Regions from separate parts of the Homo sapiens genome. Here region 1 is linked to region 2. The links come from fine-mapping of genetic effects on gene expression. A gene starts in region 2. The other region holds a variant in brackets. All regions are shown on one strand. Distances are between the middles of the regions.

Evidence for each region.
Region 1: its variant is fine-mapped to the expression of KAZN in whole blood (TOPMed, PIP above 0.99).

What each region holds. Positions count from the first base shown.
Region 1 is chr1:14,871,865-14,874,776 of GRCh38, reverse strand. The region is part of intron 1 of KAZN (kazrin, periplakin interacting protein); the gene reads right to left. Among named protein-coding and RNA genes, the nearest start is that of KAZN, 270 kb to the right of the region's middle. The variant T/A (reference allele first, on the strand shown) is at 1,784.
Region 2 is chr1:14,597,002-14,599,913 of GRCh38, reverse strand. KAZN (kazrin, periplakin interacting protein) reads right to left here and starts at 1,229. Exons shown (of 15, transcript NM_201628.3): 1 at 691-1,229. The coding sequence starts at 916. RefSeq lists a silencer at 403-562.

The sequences.
Region 1 (2,912 bases), 270 kb before region 2:
TCCAGAGAAGGATAATCAAACCAGAAGATGTCAAGATTCTCATCTTATAGCAAACACAGGTCACACCAGGATTTCTGGGCTGGATCCAAAAAGTTGGGTGAATGGAGAAGGAGATTGGTTTTGACAGCTTTTGGTTCTGGCACACGGAGTGTCAGGCAACAGTTGCTTAATTGCTGTCACAGGTGACAAGATGGTGCAGTTACCTGCAGTAGTTAAGTTAGCTGCAGTAGTTAAGTTAGCCTTCCATCCATCTGTCCATCCATCCATCCATCCATCCATCCATCCATCCATCCATCCATCCATCCAGTCAGCCAGCTAGCTAGCGATTCATGCCACCATTCCTCTGAAACAACTCAAGGTCACCAATGACATTATTAAATCCAGTGGTCACCTTTCCAGCCCCTCTTACTTAATCTGTCAGCAGCATCTAACAGTTGAACACTCTCTTCCGGACACATGTCACTTCTCTACTGGTTTCTTCCTACCTCACCAGCTGTTCCTTTTCAGTAGCCTTTGTTGGATCCTCTTCCCCCTTCCGACCTCCAAATGTTGGAGGACTCCAGAGCTCAATCCTTGGATTCTCTATCTGTACTCACTTGTCTGGTATCGTGGCTTTAAATATCATCTGTATATGCTGATGATTCCCAAATGGATATGACCAGCCCTGTCCTCTCCCTTGAAATTTGGACAGTCAACTCTCAGATGATTAATAGACATCTCTAACCTAGCATACTCCAAACTGAGCTCCTGATTTCCTCCTGGCCCACCCCCTCTAAACTCGCTCCTGCCCCTGTCTTCTCTATTTCAAGAAATGACAAGTGCTTTCCTTCCAGTTACTCAAGGGTGCATCTCTGGAATCATTCTGGACTTCTCCTTTTTCTCCTACCCACCACATCCACCACGTCAGTTCTGCTGGCTCTACCTTTGAACTAGATACTGAATCTCGCCACTTTGCCCCACTTTGCACTGCTCTCTCCCTGGTCCCAGCCACCACAAACTCATGCCTAGATGATTGCAGTAGCTTCCTTATTTGTCTCCGGCACCTGCCTTTCCTCCCTAGAGTCTATTTTCAACACAACATAAATATATGTCAGATCCAATCCCTCCTCTTCTCAAAGCCCACCACTGGCTTCTCATTTCACTGAGAGGAAAGCAAAGTCTTCCAAAAGCCTGAAAGGCCCCTGGCTCCCTCTGACCTCCTCTCCTTTTACATTTCCTCTCCTCCCACACTCTGGTTTAGCCATGCTAGCCTTCTTCTGTTCTCTCTGCTTTTCCCTCAGATCTCTGCATAGCTCACTTCCTCCCTTCCCTCAAGGCTTTCTCAAATGCTGCTTTACCAAAGAGACCACCCTATGTGAAACAGCAGCCCCATTATTCTGCATCCCTCTTCCCCACTTTATTTTCCTTCATAGTGCTTACTGCTACTAGAAATTCTTTATGCTATTTGTTTTCTTCTTGAACATCTGACTCTCCCCTTTAGAATACAGTCTTTCTGAAAGCAGGAGCTTTGTCTGTGTTATTATTCTATCCCTAACTACTTGAATAATGCCTAGTGCATAGCAGGTGACAGAAGGAATGAATGGATGAATCCATCCACCCATCCATTCATCTATCTGTCCATCCATCCATCCTTCCATCCATCCATCCATCCACCCATCCATTCATCTATCTGTCCATCCATCCATCCTTCCATCCATCCATCCATCCACCCATCCATCCATCCACCCACCGATTCATCTATCTATCCACCCACCCATCCATCCATCCATCCATCCATGTATCC[T/A]TCTATATGTTCTTCTACTCATCTTTCCATCCATCCATCCATCCATCCATCCATCTATCCATCCATCCATCCATCCACCCAACCATCCATTTATCCATATATCCATTCACCCATCCATCCACCCATCTATTCATCTATGTATCCGTCTGTACATCCATCCATTTGTCCTTCCACCCATCCATCTGTACGTCCATCCATCCATCCACCTATCCATTCATCTGTCCACTTGTCCATCCATCCATCGAACCATCCATCCATGCAATAATTTCTTACTGGGATTCTGTATAGGTTCATGAGAGATCCATTATATTAATCCTTCAAATGTGAAGGGAGATGTCCAGAAATAAGACCATTTTAAGGATTTCAGGCCCCACTTAGATCAGTGGTTACAATAATTATGAGCATGAGCAAGACTTATTCACACAGTACCTGGCTTCATCATTGGAGCTTTCAATTAAGGGATGCAATGAATATTCCCTTATAGCACTTCACAGTTTACAAAGCAAACTGTAATGATCCAATTGAATAATCTAAAACTGCACTGTACAATATGGTTGCTGTTAGCCATATGTGGCTGTTTGAATTTAAATTCATTGAAATTAAATAAAATAAAAAATTCAGTTCCTTAGTCACACTAGCTATATGTTAATTGCTTAATATCCACATGTGGCCAGTGGCTACCATATTAAATAGAAAGTTCTAGGAAGTTCTATCAGACAGCACTGCTCCATAACCACCCTAAAGTAGTAGTTTATTATATCCCATTTTGCAGACAAGAAAACAAACCCAGAGAAGTCCCCCAGTCAGTATGAAGCAGAGGCTAGTCTTGAAATCTAGTCTTCTGACTCCAAGTCCATTATTCCTTCCAAAGAAGGGTAATTTAAGGGACTGGTGCCCACACGCTTGCACCCTAATTCAGCTTCTGATACAGGAGTGCAGGAATTTAGATGTTTATCTGCCAGCAATAGCCTCTTGCCTTGCTGTCTGCGCATATTCATGCCCCCTTCTTCTGGTAGCTCCCAGATGATTAACAGACATCTCCAGCCTAGCATGCTCCAGACTGAGCTCCTGATTTCCTCCTGGCCCACCCCCTCTAAACACCCCCATTCTCCCGGGTCACCTTTCTCTC
Region 2 (2,912 bases):
CTGCAGCCCACCACCCTAAGCCTTCATTTCTCTACCGCTCAACCTTTGAGGTCTACAGTATCCCCCTGGAAAGTGCTCTCGGTGTTTATATTTGCGGAAATTTAAACTCCCTGCTGAGCTGAGCATCTACTGTTGCATCTATAGATTCCAATGCCTGAGAGACCTCAAATGAGAAGAAAATAAAGTCCAGATGCAACTGAGCCAAGGGATTTGGCATCCGCGGAGAAAAGTGCACAGCAGTGCAATCCTCTATCCCAACCACGGCGGCAGAGCCCGGAGCTCTCTCTGGGAAGGAGCCTAAGGAAGTGGGGGGAACTGTGCCATTCACCCCTGCGGGGGGTGGGGAAAAGGCCCCGGCATGAAAAGTTTGCACGGAGCTAGGGGGCTGGTGCCACGGAAAGGGCACTTTCTGATGCCGGAAGGGACCCGCCGGCTGCGCCTCGCTCAGGCTGGCCGGGGCCGGTGTGACCGTGTGACCCCGTGCACACTGCGCTCGGGTTTTCGTGAATGACAGCAGCCTGCAACTCCCAGCCGGAGAGCAGCGGTGGCCACCGCCGGGCGGAAAGGGTTACAAGCCAGAATGCAAAGCGATTTCGCCCCGGGTGTGGGGGACCCCGGGTCCCCGGCCACCTCCGAGGCCGGGCGTGCTCTGCTCGCCTTCCTCCGCCCTGGGCGCCGGGGCGATCCTACCTTGCGCTCCAAGCTGGGGGTTCTCCATGTTCGTCGCCGCCGAGTCCCCCGCCGCCGAGGCGCTGGCCGCGGCTCCCGGGCCCGGGCCGGGGCCGCCGCCGCCGCTCAGTTCCGCCAGTCTCCGGTTGGTGGCCGTGAGTTCGGCTCGCAGGTTGGTCACCTCCTGGCTGGCCGACTGGACCGCCCCATCGATGCGGAGCGCGAGCTGCTTATTGTCTTCCATCATGCTCAGGATTTTGGCCTGGGGGCGAGAGAGGTGACAAAGAGCTGCATGATGCGCGGGGGGCGCGCGGCCGGGCACCCCCGGCTCTACCTGTTGTGTCCTCCGCGGCCCGGCTTCGCCCGCGCCCCGACCCCCAGGCACCGGCAGCGCCGGTTCCTCCGGCACAGGAATGACAGCGGCGCCTCCAGCCCTAGCCGCGGCGGTGGCGAGGCGGCGGGGGGAGGAGGCGGAGGAGAAAAAAGAGGAGGAGAAGGAGGAGGAGGAGCAGCGATCGCCGAGACCCCGGCGGGCGGGCGCCGAGAGCTGCTCCAAGAAGGACACCGCGCGCCACCAGGCACTCTTTAAATGGAGCCTACCATTCGCCGCCGGCTCGGGAGGGGGTCTCGGTCGGAGGCTGGGGGCACCCTTGGCCTCCCGCGCCCCCGTACTTCGGAGACACACCCCCCGGGGGGGCGGAGGCGGCGGACGGCAGTCGGGAGGGGGCCAAGGTGGCGCCCCTGGCGAGGGGCAGGGGTCGCCTGGACCGAGGCCGGCCCTCTGTCCCCTCCCTTGAGCGGTGGGGCAGCCCCCGCCCTGGAGAACTGGTGCCCCGAGCCGTGCTAAGGTTGGGGAGGTGCTGGGTGCTCGGAAGAGAGGGTGCTTGGAAAGGGGGCCTCAGAGGGGAGCCGGGGTGGATCTCCATGGAAGGGAGACGCTTGCGCCAGCTCAGGAGTGGAGTTCGTGCTCCACCGGTTCCTTAAACTGCGAGTACGAAATCCCCAGAGGGGAGCTGAGCTGGTGCCCCGCGTGCCTCTCACTCTCCACCCCCCACCCGCAGGCCAGACCTGCGCTGCCCACCCCAGGAGGGAGCGCCTATCTTCCTCGGCGTGGGCCGCTGGTGCTCCCGCCTCTCCACAGCCCTAGCCCTGTGTGTGCATCCAGGTGGAGGAGCAGCCTTAGCCAGCTCCTAAGCTTCTTAGCCGGGCTGAATATTGGCGGGGACAGAGATGAGGTTGAGAGATAAGAAGGAAGGCGTCGATGGGGCTTCTTCCCTTTCTTCTACTGGGAGCAGAAGAGTTGAGCCCTGCTGCCTCAGTTTACCCATCCCCTCTTCACAGAAGAACTGAGGTAACCTGACGTTGATATGCCCTCTCCAGCTCCTCTTTCTCTCCCAGACCACAGGCTTTGCATTTTTCACTGGGGCCCTGGATTCCAGCCACCAGACCTTGTTACCATAGCAAACTTCATTCCATGCAAATAGGACAATTTAAAACAGCCAGCAACCCTCTGGTCAACAGGGCGCCATCATTCCAGCTCAGTCAACCTCCGGAGAGCAGCAAAGAGCAGATTGCAGAAGCCAGTGGGGTGCTGCGAGGAAAAATGAGGCTGCCCACCCTTCAGGTTCTTACAGGAAGCCCATAAGAACCAAGCAAAAACTGCGTGTAGAGTGCTTTTATATGCATTCTTATCTCTTGTGAGTGAGGATTATTATTCCCATTTTAGGGATAAGGAAACTGAGGCTCTGCATAGGGTTAAGCAATTTACTTAAGGGGCCCGCAGAAACCAGGTGACAGCGGGACTGGAAGAAAGTAATCATCTGATTGCAAGTTCCTCCTGCTGCGCCTTCAGGAGGCCTTGGATGATAGATTTCTCCCCCCTTTTCTGTGGAACCATAAAAACAGTCTTGCTCCATTCCCCTGTGACCACTAACAAGCTTTTGCAAGAGGGCAGGATTTGATGGTGGAGCATGTGGCAGGAAGACACAATTCTTCACTCTGTCCGCTCTGCTCAGCTAATGGGTCAGTTCGGGGATCGAACCCTGACCTTAACCTCATTAACACAAGTTCTTACCAACTGGACCAACCAAGGCACTTAGAACTGCTTAGTGTATCTGCAAACCAGGATTCAGTTCTTTGCAGTCTTTCAGTTACGTTATGGGGAGAGCATCAAAACTACAGAGCTGTGTGGGTCTTGAAAAGGGGGATGCCGTGGTGCAGCCATTGTGGAAAACATATTAGCA